Linked DNA regions of Homo sapiens: regions 1, 2 and 3 are each linked to region 4. Evidence: fine-mapped expression QTL. A gene starts in region 4. Each other region holds a variant in brackets. All regions are shown on one strand. Distances are between the middles of the regions. Region 1 overlaps FMN1 (formin 1). Region 2 overlaps FMN1 (formin 1). Region 3 overlaps FMN1 (formin 1). Region 4 holds the start of FMN1 (formin 1).

Region 1 (8,274 bases), 71 kb after region 4:
TCTCTCTTACCAACAGAATTTTTCAGGGAGACTGAGGAATGAGATCTTGGATGTGTGGCAAGATGTAGTTCTCTACAGACACTGCAAGTGGATGTGGCATTGGTTTCCCCTATCATTACAATATAACCTGCCTGAAACCACAGGTTCAGCATAGCTTACGTCCAAAGAGGGTTTCACAGCCCCAAGTGGAAGCTTCAGTTGGAATGGTGCTGAGTTTGATTGGAAAATACTTGTGTTTTAACTTCTGTCTTGGTTGACTAGCTTTAGGATGCTTACAGACTGGTTTCTGTTTTAAAAGGTTCACTGTTTAAAAACTTTATTCAGGTTGAGTTTAATGGAAAGTTACACTTGGGTTTCATTTAGTAAGTAATAGTTACCTATTTTTAGTGTTTTATTTACAGTTAGATGTAGGTTCACTCATTAACTCAAGGAAATAGTTGTTCTGGTCCATCCTTTGAGACTGGTAAAGTGGGTGGTCTGTGTATGAACAGAGTCAAGTTATTTAGAGGGATTTAGGGTCCAGGTTGAATGTGGAGGAGCATTAACCATGACGTTACTTATTTGACGGATTCTTGTTGTGAAGAATAAGGAGGGAGATCTGTGGTTAGGTAGTGATGATCCGACCAGTTGATTTTTCTTGAGATTATATTTTTGAGGAGAAACAGATCTGGCCTGACCTCCTCTCTGTTTGAGAGAATGTAACATGGGAAGTCTGCTACTGCTTGTTAACAGGATGCTATCTCGTTCATCACTCCCCCAACCAGCTCCTGATACAGTGCCTGGAAAACAGCAGAAAGCTTAATATGTCTTTTTGCAACATGCATCTTGCAGTTTTCTCAAACTCCCACATGTAGTCATGACAGCATCTTGCAAGCCTCTCCACAGAGTCAGCCAACCACAGTTCTTTGTCAGGAGTCACCTTACGTTTAATCAAGATGAAACGTTTATCCCACTTTGCAGTTATACAGCCACAGTTATTTATGGGTATCAGTTTTCCTTCCCAAAGTTTCAGAGCCAGAAGACTCGCCAGGAAGGCGGATCGAAAAGAGTTCGGGTTTCATGGCCCTGCAAACTGGCTGTTCCAGTAATCTGTCTTCCCTCCTTTCCCGAGTTTCTGCTCCAGCCTGCCTGTAGCGTAGATTGCTCTTTTATTGCCTTCGCTTCCTGTCTGCTGAGTTGGTCCCATTCTGGGCATGCTGCCAGGATTTGCAACTTAACACTTCCGCCCATTTCCTGCTGCTTCCTTTCTTCTTTCTGGTCTATTGAAGAATGGGCAGAAGTGCTAAGAACTTCAGCTAAATCTATGGAGTTTTTCAGTGAGTTTTGGAGGTACTCAGCGAATAAGAGGAGTAGATGTAGAGTTGGTCTGTCTTGAAAAAATTTTGGACGTTATGGGATCCACTCTGCCCTCTGCACCCACCTTCTCCTCTCACCCTCCAGAAGCTCTGGGCCTCCAGGCTCCTTTTGGTGCACACTGCGTGCTGCTCTGCTGGACTGCCTGCCCACAGTGACCTTCTGCCTCCTCTCTATTAGACTGTTGCCCATCCATGAGGGCCTGGTGCCGTACCTGCCTCACAGTGGTGTTTCCTTGATCTTTCCACCCATCTTCCTTCTCTGAAGTCTAGGAAAACTCTCTGTCTTTAGGTGGTGCTTAATAACACACCATGTCTCTAATGAGGATGTATGCTCCTCATGACCGGGGATAAACTCATTTAGTCAGCAGCTGTGGCAGCCACAGCTGCAAAAGCGTAACATTTACACAGTGCTTTATCACCTGCAAAGCCCTTTCATCCACCTTATCTGTTTTTCACAACTGCACTGTGAGTTTGGTATTACTGTTATCTCATGTGTAGATTTAGAAGCCACTTTCCTAACTTAGTGACTTACTGCACAAAAAAGCCTTCAACCGTGAATTGTTAGAGATGGTTTTTAGAAAGAAATTTGGCACTTTTCAATAGGCTATAGCCAATCAGTCATGCTTGAGAAGTTAAACATTTAGAGATTTAGTATTACTGATGAAGCACATTCTTGATGAACTACATGAAAATAGGAAGGGCTCAGTCACTAAAACAGTGGGAGTTTTTACCAAAATTTCACCATACAAAGTTGGCCATTTAACAGACTTCATTCTTAATTTTTTTTTTTTTTTGAGACACCTGACTAATTTTTGTATTTTAGTAGAGACGAGGTTTCACCATGTTGACCAGGCTAGTCTTGAATTCCTGACCTCAAGTGATCTGCCCGCCTTGGCCTTCCGAAGTGCTGGGATTACAGGTGTGAGACACCATGCCCCACCTATTCTGAATTTTTTTAAGCTGTAATTTAGATATCCAAATTTGAGAAGGGTTCATTTGAAGACCAGACATAACTAATTTGTATAACCCCATTAGATATTTCCTTTAAATAATCTTCTACACATATTGTCTTAGTGCACTGGTACATCTAGGAAGAGTCTACCTTTCTTCAACTAGAACTAACCTTCAAGACTGAATTTTAAAAGGAAACTATTTTCCTAAATGATGATTGCTAACATTTCTTGACGGCTTACTATGCATCAGAAGCTTTCTATGTATTATCTCTAAACTTTACAAGAGTCTTTGAGAGAGGTTATTTCCTCCATTTTATGGAAGACAAAAATTAGGTGACCTTCTTAAGCTGAGTAAGTGATTCACAGTAAGTGATGGATCAGGGATTCAAACTCTGCATTCTACCGCATCATTTGGCCTCCCTAGATGTAATGTTCTAAGGCATTATGTTATTTCACAGAGAGGGGCTGGTGGAAAAACTCAGTCGCTTTAAATTGTTTAAGCATTCCATGATAGAGTAGACATGGATGCGAGAAGGGATTTTATACATTCCAGGAATATAACTTCATTTGAATTGCCTCTGATTTCAAAGAAATCAAAACCTCAGTGGAGGGGAGTGGCACATAGTATCTTTAACATTTGCCCTTGTGCCAAACAAGGCTCTATGATTTGTTTCCCGTTCCAAATTAAAAAAAAAAATGCAGAAAAATGAAAAGCATTTTTTTCATCTAGTATTGAATTGATCCCATGCAAAAAAGAAAACAAAATCCAAAATTAAGGAGCACAAAGGAGTGCTATTTAGTGTCTGATTTGTGAGATTTCCTCCCTCTCCTTCCAGACTTTGTGGATCAGTTTCTGAAAATGAAAGGAATAATCTCAGATATTTTTATTGAAAAGAACACAGATTATTAGATACCAAATACATTCTAGAAGATTAATGCAATATTTGTATATGCTGATGGTGAAGACCAAGGGCTTTCCTACTCCGATGACTCAACCCTGGCTACACATTAGGATCACTTTGGGAGAGCTTTAAAGCAATCCCAATGCTCAGTCCCAAGCAGTAATTTAAGAAGGTCATGCAGCTGCCGCCTCTGCTGAATGGCAGGGCCATGGGAAGCTTTACTGATAAAGGCACAAAATGGCAAGGGGGGTGAAATGTACAGAGGGTCCTACTCATTGATCAGAAGTAGCCCGGAGAGGCTATAACAGCACAGCAAGACGCTGACCAGACCCCCTTCTCACTTTTATGTCTCAGAACTTTTCTACAGTGAATGTCAATGTGTTTTTTT[C/T]CTCCACATAACATCTGTTTCCTTTTTGTCTTTAACATCACCTCACTTTTCTTTTGAAAAGCCACGTCTCACCCTTTGCACTCTGCATGGTTAGGATGAAGCTGATCTATTGGATCTAGAGATGATCCTCAACCCAGGACTGAATGATAATTCACGTCACCTGGTCACTGTGATCTGTTTATGGACGGGCACATTTTCTAAGTTATACTCTAGAGAGTAGTTCCCCAGTCCTTTGCTGGAATAGTTGGGACACTGTCTTAGTAGCTATGGTTACTGAGCTGGAAGAATCTAATTGTGAAGTTGTAATGATTATCTTTGATACCATGAGGGGAGAACAGAATCGAGAGATGTAGAGAGATTCCTTATATCATTTGAGCTCCATGCCTGTAATCCTGGACTTTTTGGTTATATGAACAAATTCTATTCTGCCTAAGCCAGTTTAGTTGGATTTCTGCCACTTGTAATACAAGAAGTTCTAACTAAGAAACTTTACGTAGTGGAGCCAAAAGGCCAAATGGAGGAAGCAATGTGCTGATGTTGGAGTGAGGAATTCATGGAAGGGACGTTCATGTCTTGGAAAACTTAATCTGTGTTAAAACATGCATTCTATAAAATAGCTAGCTGTTTGATCAACAACCCTCACTATATAACCTGTACCCCCATACCATATGTTAGACTTAATTTTTCCTCAATATTCTTGGTTTTAGGGTGAAATAGATTCTAGGCCTTGTATTTATCTTTTGAGGACATATTTATTACTTAATATGCTATGATACTACTTTGGGGAACTATTGCCACAGATAGTGAGTCTTAGCTTAGTGCCATGTATTCATTCAACAAACATTGTTTGAACCAAGTCTGTATACTATATAGTGCAGTAGGCTTTGAATGCCAGATTCAGGAGTATTTACCTAATTCAGTAGATGGTGAAAAGCTATGGAAGGCCTTTGAGCAAAGGAGTGACATGACCCCAGTTTTGATTTGGAAAGATTAAGCAGCAGAGTGGACAGAAATAAGTTAGAAAAAGGAAGGCCAGTTGGTGATCCCCAGTTGATGGGGACTTGAATTGGGCCTGGAAATAAGTGGATGGATGTGAAAACATTGCGCAAATAGATCCACAAGGCTTGACGATATGACGTTGAAAGAAAGGCATTCTAGATGATTCTACAATTTGGGCTTTAGTTATAAGGATGTGGAGATGCTGTAAACCTATTTAGTTGTGTGAACATGGTCAGATTACTTAACCTCTCTCGGCCTGTCTTTTTATTTGTGACATTAATTACCTAGCAGGATATTGTTAGGCCATGTATATATAAAGCATTTAGCTCACTGCCTGGCACATAGTACATGCTGCATAGATGTTGGTTTGCTTTATCAAGATTGGATAGCCTATACTATGTCAATCTCTTTCTATTCCTATATATAAGAAATATTCCAGTTCCCTCTTCTTTCAGATTATGTAACAGAATAATGGCAGCAATCTGTTGCCGTGGTCAATCTTTGTTGACACACATCATTAGCTTTTTGAAGGAGCAAACCTGGAGTAGGATAGGCCAGCATGTGCCAATTTAGTGTTCCTAGATTTGACACAAACTCCAAGTTTTCTCTCTCACATTGTACCTGTCACTAGTGGCCATTAGATTTTATTACTGCTGCATTAGCTAGTGGTACTGTTTAGAAGGTGATGTCAGAATATTGGCCTGGTTGTTTATCCTGTTGCATTTTAAATACTTGGGACATCTAGAAGGTATACATGAAATGTACTGTGGGCTGAGCAGTAAAAGGATGAGCCAATGTGTACTGTCTAAAGCCAATACTAATTTTATAAAACCTACTCTGACCTACCTTACTTTCCCACCAGGCATGTACTTTTTGGGAGAAAATTGTTTAATACATGCCTGGGTTAAAAAATTTTCTTCTTTTAAAGCACAATTACATGGTTACTTGAATTTGCGGAACACAACAACGTTTTACGGAGTAGAAACACAAAATTGGAATATGACAAGAATAAATAAGACTTAGCTTATTCACTTTTTTTGGTGACTATAGGTCAGAGTTTTCAATCTTTTAGGTTTCACCTAAGAACATTGCACTTAATTCCGTGGACAAGGGATAATTTGTTTCACTGTGTAGTTAACTGTAAAAGTTCCCAGGCCCTTTCCTGCACTTCCAGAGTAGTATTCTTTATTTGTCTGTTCTTTGTCTATTGGCCTGACTGTATTGTGCTCCTTGAAAGTAGAGATCGTGTCCTCTTCATATTGTTTGCTTGCAGTACACTTTTGGTAAATGAATAAATGAATTAATTGGTAACACAATGAGAGAGACCTAATTAAGTTCTAGATTTTTCTTATTGTGGCTCTAAGTCTACTGCTTTCTTTTTGTTTTCAAATTCCTAAAATTCAAACAAACAGAAAAACAAAAATTTGGCCGGGTGTGGTGGCTCACGCCTATAATCCTAGCACTTTGGGAGGCTGAGGCAGGCGGATCACTTGAGGGGTCAGGAGATTGAGACCATCCTGGCCAACATGGTGAAATCTTGTCTCTACTAAACATACAAAAAGAAGCTGGGCATGGTGGCTGACACCTGTAATCCCAGCTACTCAGGAGGCTGAGGCACGAGAATCAGTTGAACCCGGGAGGTGGAGGTTGCAGTGAGCCAAGATTGCGCCACTGCACTCTACCCTGGCGACAGAGCAAGACTATCTAAAAAACAAAACAAACAAAACAAAACCAACTTGTCAACTATGTACTTTACTGGGAAATGGTGTAATAGACAAATGATTTCTACCTTTGTATCATATAGAACTACATGTAATACTGGAAATGAGGGAATGAGTTTCTCCCTTTGTGCTCTCAATTTATAGACAGTCCAGAACATTGTAAACAATATTGACACTGGCATTGAATGTGACCCTGAATCCGCCATGTGGTCTGAGGGAGCAGAGGTACAAAGTAATTGGTCATTGTGGTATTGAAACTCAGAATCAGGCATATGATGAAGTTTTATTTGCAGAATACTTTTTGTTTCAAGACACAGGACCCACTGCTCTATTGATAAAAGGCAAGAGTTTAATTTTTTGTTGTTGTTGATCTAAGTCCTTGGAGAAAGTAGACTGTAAATCATAGATGGGGTATTGTATACTCTTGTTACAACATCATCTAGCCAACCTTTCATCTGTCCCATGTGGAAGGTTCTCCAGTTTACATTTTTGGGTTATATGAATGAAGGCAGAGTACTATCCTATAATTAAGACTAAAACCTCTATCAAGAAGCAATGGGAGGAAAAGAGGTGAATTTACTTTGCATCCAAGATGATGGGCTTACTGTACTATAAGTAGTTCAGTGTATAGTGCAACAGGTATATTTTCAGAAGAAAGAGTCCTGGAGAGCTTGTAAAAAAATGGAAAGTAGATTCAAAAGAAATACTTTTAAAAATACATAAACATGCAAGAATGTTCATAGGATTAAAAAAACCAAATGTGCAGTAAAAGGGTAATAGGTAGAATAAATTTTTCCATATCTTATATATATGTCTGTAAAATGGGTATGTAGTCACTTAAAAGAATGATGTAGATATATATGAACTGACACACCAATGATCCAGGAATACCAGAACACGAAAAGACAACAAAAGCTGCCGAACAGTATCTTGGTATCACTACGTGTGTGTTCGTATATCCCCACATAAAAAAATAGTAATCTCTGGGGTTGGCGACATGAGGTTTTCTCATTTTTTGGATTATACAATTCCTTGTTGCTGGAATGTCCACCAATAAACATGCACTAGATGGCTAACTTTGAACATGTCTTCCCTGCCGGTGTGTAGGAAAAGTGCAGTAGCTAACCACTCTGTAAACACTATGGGCACAACTGGTAACCTAATCCATTGACCTGGAAGATGATGATGGCCCTTGGAAAGGGTCAGCAAGGAGAATAAAGTGACTGGAGTTAGCACATCTGCTATCTTTAGCAGGGTGTGCCAAGTTTTGTAAACAAATTATTTTGTAATTGCCTTATGTTTAATGTTCTTCAAAGCCGTAGAGCAAAAGAACAGATTATTTCTGAGAAGTGAAAAACAATTTTCATTTCACTATGCTGCTCTCCATTGGTCACTTGGGTATGTCCTTGGAAATAGATGTCAGAGTCCTGAATCAAACTGTGCCTTTAACTAACATTGTAACCTCAAATTGAGTCATTTAATTGCTAATCTCTTAGTTTCCCCACCTGTTAAAATTGATAATAATAATCCTTACCATCGCATTCCTGAATGAGGTGTTGTGACGCTTAATAAGATCATGTTTGCAAAACGCTTTGAGCTCTTTAGATAGAAGACACAATATAAACACAAAGTCTCATTAAGATAATTATACAGTGATTTTTCATAGTTTACATGCAAGGCTAAACCTAGTGATGGGGAGGTCATTTTATGAGAGCAAAGAAGAAGACTGGCTTTCAAAATCTGAAAATGAAATTCCTAACACATTTTAAAGACGAATATAGTACAAACAGTTTTTAGAATATGAGAGCTTAGTTTTGAGAGATGATTCAAAAAAATGAAAAAATTTTTGGAAGTTTTGTGTTTAACTGAAAACATCTTTTGTAAAACAGAGTGATCACTTCTATCCCTTGAAAGAGAAAGAAAATAAAAGCAAGCTCTTCAAGAATAGTGCTGGTT
Region 2 (8,274 bases), 34 kb after region 4:
TGAGGTGATGGATACCCCATTTACCCTGATGTGATTATTATGCACTATATGCCTGTATCAGAATATTTCATGTACCCCATAAGTATATATACCTACTATGTACCCATAAAAATTAAAAATTAAATCAGGGGGAAAGGGCTTATTTCCTAAGCATACTCATACATCTCCTGTAGATGATGATGTTAGCCAGATAGTGATGTAAAACCAGTGATGTGTTGAGGATCTCAATATCTAATTTTCATGGAAATCATGTGGAAAGCTAATACTCATTTTTCTTTATGTAATTAAGCTTTGAAAAGGTAAGGGAGAGGCAAAGAAAGAATTCCTCGACGTCTTTGAGAGAATCTTCAATGCGCACACCTTGTTAACATATCTGGGTATCTGTGTGGGTTGGTTTGTAGGTCAAAAAATGAACAGCAATGAAAAAACGTACACAAAAAGGAGCCCTTTTTTTCCCTTTAATAACCAGCTGTGACTTTGGCCAGAAACTCGTCCTCTAAAATAGTTATATTGGCTGAAATTTGTCCTCTACATTTTTGTAGAGATTTGCCCATATGTTAAAATAAGACATAGCTTATGCTGGTGGTCTCACAGTCAAATCATAGTTTCACAGGAAAGAATTTTGCCTCCGAAACTCTAGTTTAGTGCTTTCCTTCTTGTGACATTGTTAGAATGCAAAGAAAATCATAAATTTACAGACTTTTTGAAGAAAACAAAAATCATTGAGAAAATAAGTAAACTCTCTCAATTTCAGTGCTATCTCATAATAATCTTTTTTCCTTAGTCTTTGAGTAGGAAACCATCCTCCTTCTTGTCAAGGCTGATTCCTCCCCATGTGTCCTTGAGCCCATGTCTTCTTCCTCTGGTGCCTTTTTTCCCATGTTTCATACCATTTTTCACTGTATCATCAATATCTCCTTCCTTGCTACTTCCTTCTTTTCAAACTGAAAACATACTTCTGTTTTCCATGTCTCAAAAAAAACAAAAACAGGCCAGGCGCAGTGGCTTACGCCTGTAATCCCAGCAATTTGGGAGGCTGAGGTGGGAGGATCACCTGAGGTCAGGAGTTCGAGACCAGCCTGGACAACATGAGGAAACCCCATCTCTACCAAAAATACAAAAATTTGTTGAGCATGATGGCGGCTGCCTGTAATCCCAGCTACTTGGGAGGCTGAGGCAGGAGAATCACTTGAACCCAGGAGGTGGAGGTTGCAGTGAGCCAAGATCTCACCACTGTACTCCAGCCTCGGCAACAAGAGTGAAACTCCGTCTCAAAAACAAAACAAAACAAAACAAAACAAAACAAAACAAAACAGCCAGGCATGGTAGCTCACGCCTGTAATCCCAGCACTTTGGGAGGCCGAGATGAGCAGATCACCTGAGGTCAGGAGTTCAAGACTAGCCTGACCAACATGGAGAAACCCCCTCTCTACTAAAAATACAAAATTAGCCGGGCATGGTGGTGCGTGCCTGTAATCCCAGCTACTCGGGAGGCTGAGGCAGGAGAATCGCTTGAATCCAGAAGGCAGAGGTTGCGGTGAGCCGAGATTGTGCCATTGCGCTCCAGCCTGGGCAACGAGAGCGAAACTCAGTCTCAAAAAAAAAAAAAGAAAAGACAAGACAAGAAACCAAAATAGCAAATACCGGTACAGGTTATTACTCATATTTTTCTTGTCTTAACCACTAGCATTCTCACTTACTCTTTGTAATATAATTAGTTTGGTGTTCTCTCACTCTACTAAAGTTGCTACCTAAAACTGTCTGTAACATATCTTTTTTTTGAAGCAGTGTCTCACTCTGTCACCCAGGCTGGAGTGGAGTACAGTGGCGTGATCTCGGCTCACTGCAACCTCCACCTCCCGGGTTCAAGCGATTCTCCCACCTTAGTTTCCTAGGTAGCTGGTACTACAGGTGCCAGCTAATTAGCCACACCAAGCTAGTTTTTGTATTTTTAGTAGGGATGGGGTTTCACTATGTTGACCAGGCTGGTCTCAATCTCCTGACCTCAGGTGATCTGCCTGCCTTGGCCTCCCAAAGTGCTGGGATTACAGGCGTGAGCCACCACGCCCGGCCTGTAACACTTTAATTTGTTTCTTTCTTGACCTCTTTGCAGAATTTGATGTTGTCCCCAGCTCCTCATTCTTGACTCCCTGTCTGTTCTCTTTCTACTCCAATCTGTTCTGACATTACTTTTGACTTAATCTTTAAGAGTAGTGCTGAACATACTGCTTCCCTGGTCAAAAATCATCCATGGCTTCATGAGTCATTTGTCTATGAAGATAGCGTTAATATCCTACCAACCTGATTAAAATCCTTGTTTTCTCAGTCCTGTATTACGTTTCTTCCTCTTGGAAGTTCATTTTCTTAATCTCTACCTGTCCAAGGCCCATATTTTAATGAGGGGCTATTTTAAAATGCTTTCTTCTGCCTGAAGTGTTATTCTGATTCTACAAACATGATGTTGACTCTCCTTTTTTTTTTTAACTCCTCTGATTTGTTCTTTGATACCTTATAGGTCTCTTTCTGCTGTGTATTGTAGTAATTTTGTTATTATTCCTACGTTCTTACTCCTACAGTGTGGAGGTTGTTTAAAGAAAAACCCCTCAGTGGCTCACCCCTGTAATCCCAGCACTTTGGGAGGCTAAGGTGGGCAGATCACTTGAGCTCGGGAGTTTGAGACCAGGCTGCACAACATGGCAAAACCCTGTCTCTACAAAATATACAAAAATTATCTGGGCATGATGGCATGTACCTGTTTTCCCAGCTACTTGGAGGAGCTGAGGTAGGAGAATTGCCTGGGCCCAGAAGCTGGAGGTTGCAGTGAGCTGAGATCACGCCACTGCACTGCAGCGTGGGTGACAGAGCGAGACCCTATCTCAGAAAGAAGAAAAACAAAAAGGAAAGCAAAGAGAAGAAAAACTCCATGGAAAGAAGAAGAGCCATTAACCTATTGCAGAACTTCCTTTTTTTTTTTTTCTTTTTTGTTTTTTGAGACGGAGTCTTGCTCTGTCACCCAGGCTGGAGTGCAGTGGCACGATCTCGTCTCATTGCAAGCTCCACCTCCCGGGTTCACGCCATTCTCCTGCCTCAGCCTCCTGAGTAGCTGGGACTACAGGTGCTCGCCACCACACCTGGCTAATATTTTGTATTTTTAGTGGAGACGGGGTTTCACCGTGTTGGCCAGGGTGGTCTCGATCTCCTGACCTTGTGATCCGCCCGCCTCAGCCTCCCAAAGTGCTGGGATTACAGGCGTGAGCCACTGCGCCCAGCCTTCCTTTGTTTTTTTAATCTACTCTTTGAAAAAGCTGCACTCCATCCCAGGGTGGATGGAAAGGAGAAAGGCAGGCAATAACTTGTCCAAAATCACACAGGAGAGGCAGAATTCAAAGCCATCTAGGACTAAATGAGCAAGGGGAGGGGGCAGTAATGGTACTCAGAGAAAGCAGCTGCAGCTGGAGGAGAACTACCCCAGAGGAGCGTGGTCTTCATTAGAGGGCACGCCTACTACCAAACTATAGCCCAGGAGATAGGGAGTCAGGGGATAAAGGTCCCGAGCCCTCTTCCATCTGCCCTCCAATCTGTTACTGTTTCCCAATGGCTAAATCTAGTAGAAGCCACAGGGCAAGGAAACTTGTTGATTGAGTTCATAAAAGTCAGTCTCTTGGTCTTAGGAGGGTGTGAAAGGTAGAGTGTGAATTTGACTGAACTAATAAAAATTTTCCAGTTTAGAAATGGAATACAGGTAATCTGTCTTAGCCGTGTTGGGCTCAGATGGAGTCACAGGGAAAGACTGTGCCAATGACTAGGCAAAGAAAGCTTTGCATTGGCCTTTTAAGGCCAAAATCAATTAGGATGTCTGCCGTCAGCAGACAGAATGACGACAACTAATTCTTGAATCTTATTTTTAGCATTGGTGAAATATGCTATGAACAATAGATAGCATCTACTAAAAGGCAATCATTTCTCATTAGGATGAGGCAGAACAGATATTTCCATTTGGGGTAGAGTGAGGTAATCTACTTGTTTATTGGAAAAAGAATCAAGGGAGAAATCACTGCTGCAATG[T/C]TGTCATAGACAGAATGCCAGCCTGGAGCCTGTCAGAGGAAATAGAAGACACGAAGACTCCCTGGGAAGCAAAGTGCTTTTACCTTGAACATAACCAGAGCAGGTCACTTCACAGGCCAAATTAAGATGTATAATTTAGTGTGTGCCTCTGCAGAGCCGCTGCATTTGAGTCCAAGTAGAATGAGGCAATGCTGTTTGAAATAGTCCTGTGAACTCAGCATGGAATTGCAATGCCAGTGTATTTAACCCCAATGCACAGTGATTTCCTGTCCTTTTGCTTTTTTTCTCTTAGGACTTACTGCTCTTTTTCCTCTGGTTTCTTGGATGAAAAATATGTGTGATGATTCCATACTGCATTCTGACTTTCTAATGGGTTGTCACAGAGAAGAGTTTGCCCTGGTCTAAAGCCTTCTTCTGACATGGAACACTCTAGAGGGTTGAGGTTGAAGTTCATTTGCTCAGGGAAGATCCTTTTTTGTTGAAACAACCAGCTAGTCAACCTGGTTTGGCTCAGTCCTCCAGTTCCAATGAGCCTCCTGTGGGTTGTGGTTTTCATGTCAGTTCCATTTTCAAAGCTTTTGCAGTGTTCCATCCCATGTATGTGCCACCCAGTGGCCAGCCTAGGCCCTGGGAAGTTGTCTTATCTCTTCATTTTTTTTCAAAGCCCTTCGTATGGTGTTTAAGTTCAGATCCACAATCCACAGGCTGGGGTTAATTCAGGTATCCATGAACAACTTTATGGGTCACTTTCTAAGATCCTTCTCCATAATCTTTCCCATACTTCTGGGCTCTCTGAGGCTCTGATTTCAGTCCTCTAACTAGAAATCTAGGACTACTAACCCTCCAACTCTTTGGCTGCAAACTTCCTGCAACTCTGCCCACACCCGAAATCAACGAGAGGCAGAACAGAGTGAGAGAAAAAGAAATAGGGTTTTCCCCCATACATCTTGGGACTACAGTTCCTCTAATCATAGAGAAATGTTCTCCTCCCTCAGAGTTTTAGGTGCCAACAAGAAAACTTCTTTCTATTCTTGATTCTGAATTACAGGACTCCTCCTATATCTTCCTCTGTTTGTGCTGATATTCACTGCCATGTTTCAGGCACATTTGAGTCCAGGCTTAGGGGCTACTGAAGGACAAAGTTGAGAAAGTTAGCTGCTTTACAGTTGGTTGATACTTCAAAGCCTGGTCTTCCTCATCAACCTGCTTGTTACCATTTACTTTTAGAGTGTTCAAATAGCTGCTCCATGCATTTTATATTGGTGTTTTTTTTCTGTTACATTCAGTGGGAGAGCTAGGATAGAGTGCACTTACTTTATCTTACATGGAATTGAAACACCTTATATACTGTATGATTCCTTCTAAATGTGTTAACTTTAGCCTAAATCTCATTCTCTATCCCTTTGCATCTAGCAGTGTTGTGGACATATTTGTTTGATTATTCCCCGATACATCAAATTCAATATTTCCACAACTGAATTCATCTTCTTCCCCTGAAGCCTATTCCTCTTCGTGCATTTATCTTTGTGAATGGCACCACAATCTACCCAGTCACCTACATCTGAAATCATGAAACCAAATTCTTTCCTGTCACGCATATCCAATTAACCACCAGACCCTTTCAATTCTATCTTTTTATTTAATTTTTACTTATTTATTTAGAGACAGAGTCTCACTCTTTCACCCACGCTGGAGTGCAGTGGCACAATCTCGGCTCACTGCAGCCTAGATCTCCTGGGTTGAAGCAATTCTTATGCCTTAGCCACCCAAATAACTGGGATTACGGGCATGTGCCACCATGCCTGTCTAATTTTTTCTGTATTTTTAGTAGAGATGGGGTTTTACCATGTTGGTCAGGCTGGTCTTGAACTCAAGTGATCCACCCACCTCAGGCTCCCAAAGTGCTGGGATTATAGTCATGAGGCACCATGCCTGGCCTGAAATCTATCTTTTAAAATTGACCATCTCTTCTCCATCACATTGCTACTGCTTTGGTTTTGGCTATCGCTTCTTTCTGGAATACTGAAAGACCTTTCTAAGTGATTTATACCACTAGTCTTACCCCCTACTTGTCTACTCTCTACTTTACTTCTGAAGTAATCTTTTTATAACAAGTATAAGTAAGTAGCTTAGGATTCTTCATTGGCTCCTATGGATCCTGGGATAGTGAAACTCCTTAGTCTAGTTCAGTACAAAGTTTCTTACAACATACTGCTTCCCAGGGCCCAGAACAAAGGAACTGTAGTCCCAAGATCATGAGACAAACTCCCATTTCTTTTTTCTTCCTCTGTTCTGCTCCTCTTTGGTTCCGGACATGTGCACCACAAGTGTGGTAAGAGCATTCTGTATGGAAGTTTCTGGGTGGATGAGGCAATAGTGTAAAGTTCTTTTTTTTTTTCTTTTTTTTTATAATAGTAGCTTTATGCCTTGCATTGTGGCTTTATTGCTATAAAATCCAATGTTATAATTTTCTAAACCTTGACTTGAGTTTCCCAACTGTGACTAACATATAGAGTTCTAACCATGACATTTTCTCCATTTACATAACCAAGACTTATAAAGACCAGGGGAAAAAAGTACTTAATCCTGTAAACAGGCACTACATGTCTGTAATTCTCATAAAGGATATAGCCTTTATGTCAGTCCTTCTCTTCTTTTATTTCTAAATTAGAATCTTCATTGAGTTTTTACTGCCTATACCAGCTGTAGTGAACTCCTGGTGCCCTTTTTCTAGATTTTATTGTTTAAGGGATGACCTTAGGGAGCAGCACTTTACCTGATCAGACATGTTGAAGCTCTCCAATGAGTGTGGTTTTTGTTTCTTTCTTTTTCTTTTTTTTTTTTTTTTTGAAAGACAGGGTCTTGCTCTGTCACTTAGGCTGGAGTACAGTGGTGCAGTGGCGCAATCTCAGTCCACTGCAGCTTCAACCTCCCAGGCAATCCCCTTGCCTCAGCCTCACTAGCAGCTGGGAGTACAGGCTTGCACCACATTCCCAGCTAATTTTCTCTTTTTTTGTGGAAACAAGCTTTCACTATGTTCCCCAGACTGGTCTCAAATTCCTGAGCTCAAGCAACCTCCCGCCTTGGCCTCCCAACGTGCTGGGATTACAGGGGTGAGCTGCTGCGCCTGGCCTCCGTGAGCGTTAAAATAGCAAGATGTGAGACATTGTTAAGAAATTATGTAACACCAAGTTAACAAAAAAACAAAAAACAGAAAACAACAAAAAAAACTCCTCTATTCAAATTAGATGGAAAACCAGTTTGTTAGTAGAAGGCAGTAGGTGAAGAGCAACATGACCTATGAAGCAATGTAGTGAGAGAGATCTGGGTTTGAAACTTGCATATTCTGAGCCATATTCCCTTAGACAAATTCCTTTATCTCTGAATTTCAGTTTCCTCATCTGTAAAATGGAGATGTACTGATTCCATGAGATAACAAAATGAAAATATAAGTGTATATGTGCTCAGTATATACAAATTCCCTCTCTTAGGGAATAGAATACGCAGTCATATTCCTATTTGAAATTACAGCATAAACTGTGACTTTGAACAGATTCTGAATTTTTTTTTTTTTTTTTTGAGATGGAGTCTCACTCTGTCACCAGGCTGGAGTGCAGTGGCGCGATGTCAGCTCACTGCAACCTTGGCCTCCTGGGTTCAAGGGATTCTCGTGCCTCGGCCTCCTGAGTAGCTAGGATTATAGGCATGCACCACCACACACAGCTAATTTTTGTATTTTTAGTAGAGACGGGGTTTACCATGTTGGCCAGGCTGGTGTCGATCTCCTGACCTGGTGATCTGCCCACCTCGGCCTCCCAAAGTGCTGGGATTACAGGCGTGAGCCACCATACCCAGCCAATTCTGAAAATTTTTAACACTCCTCCCCCAACATCACACACTACTCCTAATCCATGGGAATTGAGGAGATGAGAACAGCTAGAGGAAAATGATGCTTGAAGAGAGAGGAGAGCATTCTATTTTTCCAAAACTCAGCATAGCTCATCTGCTGCTTCCCTTCAGTTTGTCTGAGAATTCATTAATTGAACTCCTAATGCTTAGTGCTCAGCGGATATTGACAGCTTTGCAATTGCTTTTATTACTGATTATTATAAATTACACAATAAGAGACTACCTCCTAAGTGAGTTCTTGGACACATGCAGCGAGTTTTTACCAATAATTATTAAGTATCCCTACACATGTGCATCTTT
Region 3 (8,274 bases), 47 kb after region 4:
AGCAAACATCAAGTGCAATTTTTGAGATAAAAAATATCTATCTAGGGAAGAGGAGCTTCAAAGCTTTTTGGTCATTTTGAACTTGTGAAATTTTATAAATCTCTCTAGATCATTGATCCAGGGGGTAGAGCTTTAAAAATGTGGTAAATGCTTTTCATCTTGTTTTTTGCAATAAATCTTGTTTTGATAAGATTTTCTACTTTCATAACCAATATGCTTCACCAGGAAAGTCACAGAATCGTAGATTTTATATCATGTATTGCAGAACCCTAGTGATGAAAATTCTTTCTCCTGTCGGATGCTGAGGACTTAGAAACACTTGACAAGGAAACTCTCTGAGATTATTAAGAGAGAGATTTCTGGAGGCAAGAGTGTAGAATATCTTAGCTGCCTTAACTCCAAAAACTGCAGAAACTGTGCATTAAATACATTGCTCTTTAGTAAATCCTCTTTTTCCTCAATGTAGGATTATCTTATTATTTTGCCCTTTTTCTATTTGAAAAATATCATAAAAGCTCCAGTGTATCTGGATCAAGGCAGGCACACAGAGCACATTCAGTTTCTGTTGGAGACTGACCGTGAGCCCACTGAGTGACAAGGTGAATGGATGATCACATGTTCCTTTGGCCTCTCCGTGCAATCACTCAACATTCCCTTTACTTTGGCCTCAGCCTTCCATTGGGATCTTCAGCAGCACTTTCAGGAACCAGTCATAAGAACTGTAAGCATCTCCTGTGCTTCTAACCTTATAAAAGAAGAAGCTGGAAAAGGGAAGGAGAGTAGAAGTGGGTAAGAGCTTTTTTTGATATGGGTAACTTCTCTACTGTGGAGACTTCCTATAGGGCCTCCAGCCATTACCTCCTATTGGCCCTACTTTGAAAGGCATGAGGGAGGGAGTTCCCCAGATAGTACCTTTGATTTGTATCCTCTGTCTAGTTCCCTTTTCTCTCTTGATTTTCCCTTTCCTGTCGCTGTGAGTCCTCTTTATATTCTGAACCCTTCAGTGACTCCCTGCAGCTGGGAAGCCCATACAGGGAGAAGTTTCCTGCTTCCAGCTACCTTTGTCTTTCACTTCATTTCTCTTCCCACCTAAACCCAGAAGAGGGCTCAGAGAGTTGCCAGCAGTCCAGAAAGAGGGGTGAATAATTCATTTACCATCACACTACAGTGTCCCTTTATCTGAACCCAACTCCCACCTTTCTCCCAGGTTAGCTATTAACCAGATTAAGTTTATGGTCTGTGGACATTTATTTCCTGTGGAAATAACATCTAGGTATTTTTATTGAAGTGATGTCATTAAGATTATTGAAAGCTCTCATTAACTGCTTAAGAAAGAGATTAAGTCTGGCAAAAGTAATCAGATCTGTTTCCAGTTGGAAGACTCTTCAATGTTAGAGGCAAGTAGTAATTCCCAGGAACCAGTGAAACCCGCTTATCCTTGTTACAAGACTAAGCAGTTAAAGCTGACATTACCATTCATGCAGGATGTAGCATAAGGATGTCACAGAGGCCAGCGATGCACCTTCTGTTGGGTTTGTAATTTCTTAACTTCTCATTTCAAGGATGATGCATGGGAATCTCCATTATCACCACATAGTGGTGATAAAATAGAGAATATACTAACAAGAACTGGTAGTCAGGTTTTTCTTCTCCTGCCTCCTCCCACCACCAACCTGGAGATTGGTTTTATAGTATTTTATTTGGCGGGTGGAGACTGATGTGGAATGTTCCCAAGCCTTTGTGGAGTATGGTCTTCCCCCAAACCTTGAGGAACTCTAGTTGTGCTAGCCTGCAAAGCAGTGTCCTTGGAGCTTGGTGCTAGGATTCCTTTCTGTTTTGCTTGCTTTCATTTACCTTTGATTCAAAGTAAACCCTTTTAGTGCCAGAAGAATCACAGGGAGCTTGGCTCACCATACTTGGGAAATGCCCAATCTTTAGTATGCTCTTGAGTAATCCTGTGGTTGTTTTCCTTTGACTGAAGTCACTGATGTGGTGATGGAAGCATATGCTCCAGGCATAGTTCTTCCTGATATTGAGAACTGAGAATCTCTTGATCAATTCTTGTGCCCATGAAAATATGTAATTAATGTCAACTTATTAAGAGTTAAGAGGCATACATGAAATAAATTTTATTTACATGTGTAAACCCCTAATACTACTGTCAAAGCTTTGATTGTCTCTGTGGATATACATTATGGGAAGTAAATATAAACTCTTCCCATATTAATATTAAGGTTTGATGCAATTCCAATAAAATTGTAAAGAAGCGTCACGACATTAATAGACATATGCAGCCATTTAAGGTTACTACAGAAAGTATGTAGTACAAAGAAAATTATCTAAAATTAATGGAGGGAAAATAGGACTCAAAAATTGCATCAGCCATATTCTACCCATATAAAACAAATACAGGAATTAAGTTGACATAAAGTATGTTGCTATGCACTTTTGAGAAAGTAATAGGATCCCAATTAAAACTCTGTGTAACTATGACCTGGCAATCCCACTTTTAGGAATTTAGCTTACATAAATATATGTACCAATAAGAAATTAGGCATAAGGATGTTTATTGCAGCATTGTCTGTAGTGGCAAAAAATAGCTAGAAAAAATTTGAATGTTCATCATTAGAGAAATGGTTAAATAAATGATTGTGCATTTATGCTCTGTAATATTATGAGGCTGTTCAGAGTACTGATCTAGATTTGTATCTATTTGAGTTATAAAATAATACATAAAATGCTCTCAGGTTTTGTAAAACAACTATCACCCCTCCCAATATATAAATATATATGTTTGGTACAGGTTCGAATATCATGGAGATGAGTGTGGAAGAACACTGGCCAGGCTGTTAACATTCCTTATTGAGGGTCAAGGCAGTGGAGGTGGGGAATGAAGTGAAAGAGAAAGATGCGGAAAAATTGGAGAAAGGCATTAATTTTATTTCTCTTTACATATTTTTATATTGTTTCTCTGGTTGTAGTGAATATGTTACTTTTATGATTCTTCAAGAGTGATTTAACTACTTTTATTTTTTAAGAAAAAAACAAATTCACCACCTAGAGTGCTTGTGTGTGGGGTCGGGGGTGGGGAGTACAATTATAGCTAAAGTACACTTTTCTATGTTTTCCCCATGTCCTTTGAGGCAAGAATTTTAGCATTGAGAATATATCATTGTTACAAGGGGAAATGTAGGTTGTTAGAGACCTGTAAAAGCCATGCTCAAAAAGCACTAGTCCAGGAGGTAGGGATAGGATGAGGATAGAGCATAATCCAGAAACCAACGGAAGAAAGCAATTCAGAGAGGCCCCTGGATTACTCACAGTCCTGAGAGGAAACAGATACCTGCAAGGCTGAAGGCGCAAGGGAAGG[C/T]GTGCGTGGTCACTGGAGCCCAGACAGGGGAGATTAATGGAGGGGACCCTCTGTCAGGAACAGTGGTTTCTGGTAGAGACACCCAGCGGAGAGGAAGCTGTGGGGATAAATATCCTGGCCTCACCCTCCTCTGGACCACTTCCTGTAAACCTCCTCTAACTGAACCAACCAGAAAGCAGAGTGTAAAGGAGCCAAGCCAGGGGCTGTGGTCTACGGGGTCAGCCTTCCAGGGCCAAGAGCAGGTTGAGAAAAATGGGGAGTGGATCTGGAGGAGCCAATGGGAGTCTGGATGAGGGGGATGAATTATGCCATAAAGAACAGGAAAATACTGTTGCTTCTAACCCTCTTTGAGGGAGTTACTTCGGTAGAATGACGTCTATGAGTAGATTATAAGAGGCTGAAGGTAGGTGATAAGGAAGTGGAAGTAGTGGCTACAGTTTTTTCCCTCCGATTTATTAGTGAATGGATGTGAAAGATGGGATGGAATTTTAAATGAGCAACAGGGGAAAGAAGAATGTGTGTTTATGTGGTATATGGGTATATGTTTTGTTATAGAACAGTGGTAATCTTAATACTTAAATGATTATTACAGTGTTTTATTTCTTTCTCATGTGACCTTTCTCCTCTAAATTTGATTAGGTTGACCATCTTTTTATTGTTAAAAGTTCATACAAAGAGAAAGTGAATTAGAAGTCCTGGTAATATGATTTTTAGTCCATGGATTCAGAAACAATATTTTTTTTTTCAAAAAACAACACACAAAGCTCTTAAAATTTAACAGTGTTTGAGATCCCATTGTGCCTGCTTGCTTTTTGTGTAAAGCATAAAGAGAATTTTAAAGAGTGCCTTTTCCAATGATCTCAAATAAGAATAGCTCATTGGCATGTGAAATACGAAATAAATGTTCTACTAATGAACAATTTGTATTTTAAGGTCAGTTTCTGTATAAAATAAATGAGTATTTTTCTCATTTGTTTTGCTTTTTAAAGGGGAATGTGATTTAAAGGCCAGGACCATGGCCAGAATCTGATGTTTTAAAATCTCAAGCCAGCTCTATGCCTGTGCATTTTTCCCCAGATTAAGATTGAATTATGCTTTGAGGATAACACCTTCCACTGGATTGCTTTTCACTTGTCTCTATTTTTGGATTCAGAGTACAAGATATAAAGCAAGGGTGGCAGTCTGTGGCCTTTGGCTATATGCACAGCCTTCCGAAATAATTCCAAAGATGTGTAGAAATAGCAGAATAACACCATGATTAAAAGTAACAGCCACTGATAAATGTAAAAGAGAAAACTATTTTTAAAATAAATAGATATTAAATTTTAGAGAATAATTCATTGGATATATTTGTTAACTCAACACTCTGCCTCATGTCATTATTGGTTGGGACATGAGAAAAAGACAACCTTTTCGGGTTGTAATTGGATTACAAGTATTATATCAAACTGATAAAGCAGAGTACTGAATATTGAAAGCGTATGTTTTGTTTTATTTCTTTTTTTTTTTTTTTTTGAGACGGAGTCTCGCTCTTGTTTCCCAGGCTAGAGTACAGTGGCGTGATCTTGGCTCACTGCAACCTCCGCCTCCCAGGTTCAAGGAATTCTCCTTCCTCAGCCTCCCAGCTAGCTGGGATTACAGGTGTGCATCTGGCTAGTTTTTGTATTTTTAGTAGGGATGGGATTTCACCACGTTGGCCAGGCTCGTCTTGAACTCCTGACCTCGTGATCTGCCCGCCTCGACCTTCCAAAGTTCTGGGATTACAGGGGTGAGCCACGGCCTGTTTTGTTTTATTTCTTAGGGAATCCTGAGAAAGCACTTTTTGAAAACAGCAGATACCACTGCGGCCCCACCCCCTTCCTCTTGATAGCTGTGAGCAGATAAATGACTGTGGTGCCGATCTCACTGTATTTGCTTTCTGATCACTTACAGGGATAGTGACTTCTGTTAGATAATTTTGAAATTGGAATCAGACCATATCTAATGTATCTTTGTGGCCCCTGGGCTGTGATATTAGGTCATACCATCCCCTTGGAGTTCCTCTGTGTGCCCCGGCAGCTCAGCCTCCTATCATGGCATGTTCTGGAGTTTCTTCCCTCTCATAGAAGGTTCTAGGAATTTTTTTTTCACAGTCATGGATTGTTCCAGTACATTGAAACAAGGCTCAGAGCCTTATAGGAAAGAACTTGAAATCAGGTCAGAATTGGAATTCAGAGATGTATGGGATACAGACGGATTTGAGGGGTCCTGGAACGATGTTGGATAATAGGGAGGAACAACAAACTACTGAAGGAAAAGTACCAAGAGAGAACACTTCTGGGCCAGAATGTCTTGGACAAACATTTCCTCATCCTCCTGGGAGGGCCCCTACACTTGAGGAAGAAGGAGCTTTGGCAAAAAGAAATGAAAGAACTTTATCATCAGAAGCCCAACAGTTTTGCAGTATTGAAGAGCTGTTCAAGAGAGGTAGGGACTTCCTCTCTTGAGGACTGGGTTTCACGCTAAGCAAGTGAGTGAGGACTTCAAACGCTGAGATTCAGATTTTTGTATTAGTAATTCATGGTATAGTCCCAGTTACTCGGGAGGCTGAAGCCCGAGAATCTCTTGATCCCGGGAGAAGTATGTTACAGTGAGCCGAGATTGCACCACTGAACTCCAGCCTGGGTGACAAAGAGAGACTCCATTTCAAAAAAAAAAAAAAAATTCATGGTAATACGGTTTTATTCACAATAAAGTCACAAATCAGTTCATTCAGATTTCACGTATTTTTTCTAAAACGTTCAAGTCTTTAGTTTCAGTTTTGTGTTTAGAGGGAGAACTCAGAAGTGCTCCTGTGACTGAGTAAAGCTGTTGGTTTCCAGGTGAGCCCAGAGGAATTGTGGAGAGTAAATAAGGTGTGCAGCTTGGGCCTCAGCTATGTTCTCCCTAGGATTCAGACTTGTCTGGGCATGTCTGGATAATTTGACAGTCATGCCCGTCCAGAGTCTTCTGCTTGAGGGCTGGGATGATCATCACAGGACAAAGCTCATCTTAAGGAAAGCAAGAATTTGAGCCACATCCGAGGGTAGCGGCTACCACGGGGAGGGACAACACTGAAAATAGCATGACGTATGTTCTCCAGATTTTCTGTTGCGCCAGCCCCATGGATTCATGCCTGGAGATAGGGAGAGAGGACTGCCATAAAAAAAGCAGTGTGAAAATTTAAAGAGTAATGTTACTAAAATTTCTTTAGGACATTGAAAGCAAATTCTGCATAACAGGATGTACAGACTTGGGGAAGCAGTGTCCCTATTGGAGGTGCTATGGAAGCACGGTGTGAAAGGGCATAATGAACTAGATTTTATCCAGTGTGGTTTTATTGATGGTAGAATGAATGAGATTTTGTCTTATCCCAAGGAGAAGCGGGAGAGGTAGGCAGTTGTGCCTTGGGCAACACATCTGGCACCTTTGACTACAGCAGCCCTGGTGCCCATTTTGGAAGCATCAAGAGGCACCTTGTGCAGCCGAAGCAAGAGATGAAAGCAGTGATGAGGAGGAAGGATTACATCCACGAGCACACATGATTTCTAGAATGATTCAGGGGAAATTGGTGTGGGGGAGAGGGAAGCACCAAAATCGGTAGAGTCAGTGAAATACCGATTTTTTAGCTTGTTATTACTCCCCTGATTGCAGTTGCTGGAAGGAATTATGTCAAATTTCATAGCGGTTTTTTGAGAATCAAATGAAATAATATCAATGAAAATAGTTCATAAAGCACTTTTTAAAATTAGCTTTATTATAATTACACATCATTGCTGGTTCATAGGGGCAGAAAGGATTTTAAAATCCCACTCCTTTTGGTATTTTCCAATGATGAAATGATGCTACAAAGAATAGCTCACAATGAGTTGTTTATTCGATGTGGATTTGCTGATTTGTTCTTGATTAAAGCTGCTACATTTGCTGCTTGTTTTTTAAGGCACTTACTTATATAGCATCTTTATCGATATTTTATTGTTTTGTGTAGGTTAATATTGGATTTCTCTTTTTTTTTTTTTTTTTTTCAGACGGAGTCTAGCTCTGTCGCCCAGGCTGGAGTGCAGTGGCGCAATCTCGGCTCACTGCAAGTTCCGCCTCCCGGGTTCATGCCATTCTCCTGCCTCAGCCTCCCGAGTAGCCTGGGACTACAGGCACCTGCCACCACGCCCGGCTAATTTTTTGTATTTTTACTGGAGATGGGGGTTTCACCGTGTTAGCCAGGATGGTCTTGATCTCCTGACCTCATGATCCGCCCACCTCGGCCTCCCAAAGTGCTGGGATTACAGGAGTGAGCCACCATGCCCGGCCTAATATTGGATTTCTACCTAATTTGCATTAATAAAAAAACTTGAGGGCAGAGATCGTATAGGATACCTCTGAGGTACTCCCCACAGTGTCTAGCTTCAAACTGGCTCACTCGGTAGCCTTTGAATTAAATCAGGGTTTTAAAATTTTCTAAATTAAATCAAGTCAGAAAGGAATTGGAATGGTATGTCTGACTACTAATGTCATTTCAGTGTGAAATCTTAAAGGATGAAAGAGCAAAAGAAAAGAAAAACAAAGGTCCCCTTTCTTCCTCCCAATCATTTCTGAATCACGTGAAGTCACATTTTCTCTCTTCAAAGTGTTCTCAATTTCTGCATCTAATAGTAATTTTGTCCCTACTGATTTCCATATCATATTTCTATCAAGGCGATAGGTTTTGGACCTCAAGACATATTATCTGCCTCTCATCTGTATTTTTATAATATTAACTCAGCGATTCTTCTGTGATAAAGAACTTAATCTTTAGCTCTTATCAAGCTTTTGAATGTAGGACCTTATCTTTTACTTTGGATGCATGCTTTGCAGTTTCATAAACAGTAAATTAATAGGTACTGATTCTT
Region 4 (8,274 bases):
CCGGAACTTCTGACCAACCAGCTTCAAGCTGGGGTTCCCACGACTCCCTCTCTGGGTTTGATTAATTTGCTAGAGCAGCTCACAGAACTCAGAAACACACTTACCGGTTTATTAAGAAGGATATTTTAAAGAATACAAATAAACAGCCAGATGAAGAAATATATAGGGTGTGGGTCTGCAAGGGTCCCAAGCGTAGGAGCTTCTGTCCCCAGGAGTTGAGCGGTGCCATCCGCCCAGCACATGCGAGTTCTTCTTCACCTTCCTGTCAGCCTCCACAGGTTCAGCTCTCCAAAACCCATCCTCTTGGGTTTTTATGGAAGCTTCATGATGTCACCATTCCTTCCCCCAGTGTATAGGGTGGGATTCTCTGTGGGGAGGTTCTTAAGACCCACAATCAGAAAGGTGGAGAAGATTAGAGTCCTGCCTTGGGGCAGATAAGGAGAGGGCAGGAGAGAGATTCTGTTTCCTGAGGCCTGGCCCTGAGGCCTAACACACACAGCATTATAAAAAAACACCAACAATGGCTACGGGAGTTATGAGCCAGGAACACTGAATGAAAATTATATGTATTAATATACATTAAAATTAATTATATATGTATTATATATATTAAAATATATGTATATAATAACACAGGAATGAATGGGGAATCCCATGAAATCCTATTTACCCCTGGGGACTTCAAACGAGAATGTGTAAATAGTACCTTAAGCCCCAGGTAGGCAAGGACCATTATTTCCGTTTTCTTGGTTCCCTTTGATAAGCAAATTGACCAAATTTAGTAATTTCGAATTCATAGGCATTGTATCATCTACTTCACATGTTCCACAGAGGAATGCATTTCGGTAAGGATTATCAGAGACAGCTTTTTCTCTTAGGCAGGCAGTATGGTATATTGTGAAAATGTGGGCCTTGGCCGGGCTTGGTGGCTCATGCCTGTAATCCCAGCACTTTGGGAGGCTGAGGCGGGCAGATCACTGGGTCAGGAGTTTGAGACCAGCCTGGCCAACATGGTGAAATCCCATCTCTACTAAAAACACAAAAAATTAGCTGGGTAGGGCACCTGTAATCCCAGCTACTCAGGAGGCTGAGGCAGGAGAATCGCTTGAACCCAGGAGGCGGAGGTTGCAGTGAGCCGAGACTGCGCCACTGCACTCCAGCCTGGACAACAGAGACTCCGTCAAAAAAAAAAAAAAAAAAAAGGAAAGAAAGAAAATGTGGGCCTCCAGGTCAGAATGATTTGGGGTCAAGACTTTTTCTTAAACTTGCAACCTCAAGTGAGTCACTATCCTCTCTAGTCCGAGTTTCCTCAGCCTTGAGGTGGTGATAACACCTACCCTGCTGGGTGGTTGTGAAGATTAGTAATTTTGTTGATAAAGTGATCTCTTCAGGTATGGTCCAGATTGAGTGTTCTCAGCTAGGCTGTGCATTTCCATTAGGAAATGGGCTTTATTGAACTGGATATCCCTAGAGTCTAGTACAATAACATATATTAGGCACTTAGTAGCTGTTTATTTTTTCATTTTTTATTTTTTATTTTGAGACAGGATCTAGCTCTGTCACCCAGGCTGCAGTGCGAGGGCTTAAGTGATCCTCCTGCCTCGGCCTCTCGAGTACCTGGGACTACAGGCATGCACCACCACACCCAGCTAATTTTTTAACATTTATTTTTTGTAGAGATAGGGTCTCACTGTGTTGCCCAGTCTGGTCTCAAACTCCTGGGTCCATGCAATCCTCTCGGCCAGTAACTGTTTATTAAGCAAGGATCACATAAATACTCCACTAACAAGCTGGGCATGGTGGCTCACGCCTGTAATCCCAGCACTTTGGGAGGCCGAGGCGGGCAGATTGCTTGAGGTCAGGAGTTCGAGACCAGCCTGGACGACATGGTGAAACCCCATCTCTATTAAAAACACAAAAAATAGCCAGGCATGGTAGTGTATGCCTGTAGTCCCAGCTACTCAGGAGGCTGAGGCAGGAGAATCACTTGAACCTGAGAGACAGAGGTTGTAGTGAGCCGAGATTACACCAGTGTACTCCAGCCTGGGTGACAGAGTGAAATTGTCTCAAACAAAACAAAACAAAACAAAACAAAACAAAACAAAACAAAACTCCACTAACTTGTTAATTAGTGTATACCTTTGTATTGATCTATAACCTTTAACTTATTTATATTTTGTCTTTATTAATAGCCTCTTTGGGAAAATATTTTTCTTCTCCTTTCTCTTTAAAACACCTCCTACTCCCTCCCCCTACCAAGCTTAGAGCAAGTACATATTTCCAGGTTTGATTAAAGGCCAGAGTAGGATTTAGGAATTTCTTCAGAACACTGTTGAAACAATGCTGGAATATGACTTTGGATTAACATCCTTTTACCTTTCTAGGACTCAGCTCACACGACCATGATATTATTTTGTGGGTGGACTTTAAAAGATTTCTACATCAATTAAAACCTAGTTTGACTTAAGCCCTGCAAAATTTTACTTCCTTCCCAACAATAGGAAATCACAGCTCCCTTCTATGAGCAAAGTTGACTTGCAATTGCTCCTAACACATGTCAGAGGTGACACTTCACTCTTAAAGGTGCTTCTGAGGCTGCGGTTTCAAGAAGTCAGTAGTGTGAAAACTGGATCCCTATATGACAATTTTCAGGTAAAAAGAAAAAAGCATCAAGGAATTAAGAGTCGTACTGAGGGCTTCTTATTCTTCTAACTGATGATGATGATTTTTAGACAGGAGATATACGGACCTCGTATTGACTCTACTCCTAACTACGAACATGACCCAAGGACAATTACTTGAACTTTGGGAACCTCAGTTTTCTTATCTATAAGTGGAATTTACAAGGGGAAGATATGAGGATTGAAGGAGATAATGTATATGAAGTGCCTATGGAGCCGGGCACAGCACTTCACAACTGTAATCTCGGCATTTTGGGAGGCTGAGAAGGGAAGATCGCTTGAGCTTAGGAGTTTGAGACCAGCTTGGGCAATATGGTGAAACCCTGTCCCTACAAATAAAAAATTAAAAAATTAGCTGGACATGGTGGTGCCCGCCTGTAGTCCCAGGTACTTTGGAGGCTGAGTTGGGAGGATGGCTTTAGCCCACGGGGTTGAGGCTGCAGTGAGCCAAGATCGCACCACTGCACCCCAGCCTGGGTGACAGAGTGAGACCGTGTGTTAAAAAAACAAATAAATAAAGGGCCTATCAGTGTTTGGCTAATATTGTGATTAAGAATAAATCAGAGTTCCAATAAACTATTATTTCTAGAAAAAAAATAGTGAAAAAAATCACCTTAAAAATACCTTCCAAATTTTTTTCCCATTTACTTATTTGAAAACAGAATCTATTCAGGACAAAATTCTATCTTCAAGTACCAAATGGGTGATACAGTTCGCATTTATCCAAAAGCAGATTAAAGACAATGCCTTTTCTTGCCTACCTACTTGGAAAAGATCTCAGTGTCACTCAAATCACATTCCAAATCTCAACGACATTAAGGCCTCAAATCCTCTTAGGAAAGGTTTGAAGGTAGTTCATTTCAGTAATGATTAGACACTTGGGGACAAAACAGTACCTTGGCATCAAGGTCTGTACTGATTCACCAGCACAGAAATAGCAGTAACAAGATCTTCAACTCTGAGGTGTTCAAATAAGCAGACAAACTCCCTCGTGAGGCCCAGGCCTCTTGACATCCGGACTCAGTCTTTCTTTCTCAGATCGCCAAGGGTCTGGCCCATTTCTCAGCCTAAACCTATTTTGCGTTTAATTCAAACCAGTCAAAGTAACTTAACCGCCAGCAGTTAAAAAGCTACTAGGAGGAAGCGTAGGCAGGAGATGGGAGAGGAAAAGGCTCCTGTCAGGGTTTGGGCTTATGTGTGGATTCTTGAATTCTCCTTCTTTGTTCCTTTTAGCACTTACGATCAAGAACGGCTAGGCTGAGGGGGCAGGGGGGCCAGGCCACTGGAGCGAAACGGCCTCTCCGGATCTGGAGGCGTGGGAACCTCGGGAATAGTGGGGAGTTCCAGACCAGTTCCCTTCCCCCATCTGAACAAGTCCAGAGCGTGCGCCTTGAGAGGCGCTCGGAAACAGGGAAGCTGGGGACACGTAGCGAGAGACTGGTTGTCGCCCTGGCTGTCCGTCTTAGACCTAGCTTAGCGACCACCGCCTTCAATCCCTCAGCCCGGATCAGACGGTGCCAAAAGACAGCACTGCTTCCCAGCCTGGCCCAACGGCTCGGCTGCTGATTGGGCACCGCCGCCTCCCGCCCCGCCTCCCCTGCCACCTCGGGCGCCGCTGCACGTTTCCACTGGTCTTCAGCCCTGCCGATCAGTTTACTGCTCACCTCCCCCAAACAGCTCGTCAGGCCGGCGCGTGCTAGGAAGGCGGGGCCTGTGGCCTGTGGGGCGGAGCCTCGGTGGAGGTCGGCGCAGCTGCCCCTTTGGGCTTTGGCTCTGGACTGGAGCGCAGCATCCTTCGAGGCTGCAGCCGCCACGGCTGTTGCCGTAAGCAATCCTCCTGCCTCAGCCTCCCGAGTAGCTGGGACTCGGGACCAGCCTCCCGAGTATTGGTCAGGTAAAGAGAGTCTTGTCTGTTCTGCTGGCCATCTGCCCGTCTCTTCTTCCCGACCAAAGGCTGCCTGCTCCGCCTTCCCCCGTGGCTTTCAGGGTTCTTGGAATGAGGCATCAAGTCTATTTACCCCGCCAGCTTATCTTCCTCCCCTTCTGTGTCGGTTCCTCCAGCTCCCCCACCAAGCTGCTCCCAAGTACGTTGGTGGGCCCTCCGGGTCATCCCAACGCTCCTCACTACAGAACTCCTGTCGTTGACTCTCAGGTCCCAGCCCCCTTGACCCGCCAGTGCAGTCTCATTCCCAGCTTGGCACAGGAAAGGTGGAGGGCGGGAGGGCGGGAGGGCGGGGGACGGAGAGATGCAGAGCTTTTTTTTTTTTTTTTTTTTTTTTTTGAAGCTGGATGTGTTTAGCGCAGAGGGGGAGCACCACAATGGGATTGCATTGGGAACAGAAGCAGCTTCATGACTATGGTTGGCAATGACTAGAAAGGTATCTGTTGCTGCTTTTTGCTTGTGTTTATAGATGACATTTACCATCACCGTTTTCTTCTTCTTTCATCATCATCATCATCACCATTGCCACTACCACCACCTCCAAGGCCACTACCACCACAGCATCTCTGTTCCTCCATCAGAGCTCTTCAAGTTCTGTAAAGGCAGATTCTCTAAAGGCATGTAAGTGCTGACGGATCCCCCAACCCCCTCCCCCACCACCAAATAACGAACAGTGCTCTTGCCCCCTGAGGCCAGAGCCAAGCCCTCATTTAACTCAAGAACAAGTAGCTGGGAGCAGAGTGTGAGCTGGGAGGATTTTCCTTATCCTCATTTGCAATTGAGATTGCCAAAGAAAACCCTTTATTTTAATCATCCACATTTCTGCTTGCTGTCTCCTGGAGAGTTCCATGTTAGCACTCACACACTCCGAATGGGCTGAATGCAGAGCCTGAACCTGTGATATATATGGGGAGTGGCAGTCACTGAGAGGTGAATGTCCAGACCCAATCCTTTAAGAAGACCAGGTGGAGTAGCAGACAACCTGACTTTCTGCTACAGTAGCTCCAGCTGTACTAAAGCATGTTTACTATTCATGTTTGCATATGGGACATGTGCCATCATCTGCTATGCCCCCTTGCGTGTGTATTGGCAGGGGGGCGGAGGGGCGCATCTAAATTCCTAGGAGAGAGAATTATATTCTGTTCTCTACACCAGGTAGCATCTTATAGGCACACCAATGGGATTCAACAGCCGTTGCTTAGCTGTTTCTAGGGCTTACTGCAAATCTCTTGGATCACAGACTTATTAACCCTTTTTTGGGAGGGAAAACAGTATAGCTGAGAATTGCATACCAGATTAACTGTCGTTGTGGAAGATGTTGCTTCCACAATGAATCAATGAGGTCTCGGGTCTTCTTGATCAGATATCTAAACACTAGTCTCCTTTCTCTCAACTGTGTTACAGTCCAGGAGCAGGACCAATGAATAGTTAGACATATTGCAGGAACAAAGAAGCAATGGCCTCAATGGAGGGAAACAATGGAGAAGAGTAGTGAGACAGTATATTGTAATGGCTAAACTCATAAACCTGTCAGACATAGGTTCAAATCCTGGACCAGCCACTGACTAGCTCAGTGATTTTTGCAAGTTGCTTGCCTCTTTAATTTTAATTTCTCGTCTGTAAAATAGGGATAATACTACCTGTCTCTTAGGAGAAGGTGTGAGGATTAAACGAGATAATATAGGTAAAATACTCAGTAGTTTCTGGCACATAAGTGGGGAATTTATAGTAACTGCTATTAATAATACTAGTCAAGAAGGATAATAAAGGCCAGTCTCGTTCCTAAAAATTATGCATTTTTTTCCATTGTCTTTATCCTTTTTAGGTGTCAGAGCTGATGCAAATGGGGTATGGTAGTCTTCAGGTTCCTTATAGCACTACATCTTAGAGGGGTGCCACTATTGAAGCCACCTGTGTTTGGACAGGCATTTCTCTCACCAGCCTTCACAAGTACTTAGCCGATTCTTAGTTGAGATACGTTAAAGATGCAGCTTTAGAGAAGATTTCCAGGCCTCTGGCCCTATTCTAGACTGCTTCTTTCTCACTGAGTGTTCAATGCATTGACTGTGATTGATGAAGCCTTTGTCACAGGCTTAACCCTGCCTAGACCAAATGCTTTGGCCAAGGGAATGGGGTCCCATAGGACCTATGATTGTCTAAGGGTAGGTCTCATATCCTGGTCATCCTCCCTTTCCAGACATAAAATTGGTGGAGCTGTTCCCAGAGGAAGAGGAATGGGGACAGACTGGAACTTGATGTGATGATGGTAAATATCCTTGATAGAAAATTGAGAAATGCTTCTCTCCTATCTCATATACCATGCCTCAAAGTCTAGTTTTACGTTAAAGTTTTGGATTCATGCACACCATCCCAAGCTGTGGTGTGCTTTAGATGATCTTGCCTTTAATGGTTTTCTTATTAAAACTTTATTCGTATCAGTGTAAAAGTTCATAATGGATATTTCATATCTTGCAGTGATGCTACTGGTTGGTAGTATGACCACGTTTAGGGGCTATTCATAATCTCTTTTTGGGACCTGGTTTTAAGAGTAGCTATTATTTTTAGATGTACATAGTCTCTGTCTTAAATATCAGCTTAATTCTCAACAGGTCCCAGCCTGTGTTGACAGAATTACAGCTGTTAATCTGATTTGCCTGATCTTGCAGAGACGCTAAACCATGGGAATTGTATTCTCCTGCAGCAAATATAAGCTTGCACCAACAGGCTGGCACTGTGAAGGAACTGAAGCATCTCTGTATTTAGTGTCTGTGCTGAAGTGCTGACAAAGCATCAACCCCATGCTCTGCAAAATAGTAATTACTAAAGCGGGGAGATGTAAAGAAGGAAACAAACCTCTTTACCTTGTCAGCGCATAAAAGCAAGGGTCTGAGAAATGGAGCATTCCCTCTCACTTATGTTTCTCAAGTTCCCTGGCTAAAAGTAAACAATCTCCCAGAGTAACCTGGATTTCTGTGCTTATCTACGCTTTCAGCAAATACTGCCTTAGTGCATGTTTGAGGATGAGGGAGAGAGAAGAGAGTTGGTCCTCCTTGTGGACATCCTTACCTCCCCACTGGCCTGAAATGACCATGATCTCTGTAATGCATCTCTCTAGGAAGCAGACTACTAGTTAAGTTTTTTTTTCTTTAACCAACACACCTCCTATTTCCTTAACTTGATACTGACTTGTTTTATGTTCCATCTTATTCGAACTATGCCTATCTCTTCCTTCTAAAGTGTCATAGGTCACTGCTAATGATGAACACCTTTCAAATGAAACGCTTTTTTACTGTGGTCTTCCACGTGACAGGCTATTGGGCAAAATATTTTGGAGGTAGCCAGGACTTTTTTTTTTTTTTTGAGATGGAGTCTCGCTCTGTTGCCCAGGCTGGAGTGCAGTGGCACGGTCTCAACACACTGCAAGCTCCGCCTCCCGGGTTCACGCCATTCTCCTGCTTCAGCCTCCTGAATAGCTGGGTCTACAGGTGCCCACCACCACGCCTGGCTAATTTTTTGTATTTTTAGTAGAGATGGGGTTTCACCGTGTTAGCCAGGATGGTCTTGATCTCCTGACCTTGTGATCTGCCTGCCTCGGCCTTCCAAAGTGCTGGGATTACAGGCGTGAGTTACCACGTCCGGCCAGCCAGGACT

Evidence for each region. PIP is the estimated chance that this variant, and not a neighbour inherited with it, causes the effect.
Region 1: its variant is the best candidate, but not a certain one, in a credible set for the expression of FMN1 in whole blood (INTERVAL, PIP 0.52).
Region 2: its variant is the best candidate, but not a certain one, in a credible set for the expression of FMN1 in whole blood (INTERVAL, PIP 0.56).
Region 3: its variant is the best candidate, but not a certain one, in a credible set for the expression of FMN1 in whole blood (TOPMed, PIP 0.73).

What each region holds. Positions count from the first base shown.
Region 1 is chr15:33,119,580-33,127,853 of GRCh38, reverse strand. All of the region lies in intron 4 of FMN1 (formin 1), which reads left to right. Among named protein-coding and RNA genes, the nearest start is that of FMN1, 71 kb to the left of the region's middle. The variant C/T (reference allele first, on the strand shown) is at 3,599.
Region 2 is chr15:33,156,634-33,164,907 of GRCh38, reverse strand. The region is part of intron 3 of FMN1 (formin 1); the gene reads left to right. Among named protein-coding and RNA genes, the nearest start is that of FMN1, 34 kb to the left of the region's middle. RefSeq lists an enhancer at 1,682-1,731. The variant T/C (reference allele first, on the strand shown) is at 4,066.
Region 3 is chr15:33,143,777-33,152,050 of GRCh38, reverse strand. All of the region lies in intron 4 of FMN1 (formin 1), which reads left to right. Among named protein-coding and RNA genes, the nearest start is that of FMN1, 47 kb to the left of the region's middle. RefSeq lists an enhancer at 5,532-6,731. The variant C/T (reference allele first, on the strand shown) is at 3,371.
Region 4 is chr15:33,190,879-33,199,152 of GRCh38, reverse strand. FMN1 (formin 1) reads left to right here and starts at 4,439. Exons shown (of 21, transcript NM_001277313.2): 1 at 4,439-4,575; 2 at 5,093-5,244. It overlaps LOC105370759 (a long non-coding RNA gene), which reads right to left and starts at 4,242. Exons shown (of 3, transcript XR_932090.3): 1 at 3,578-4,242. RefSeq lists silencers at 4,137-4,346, 4,121-4,460.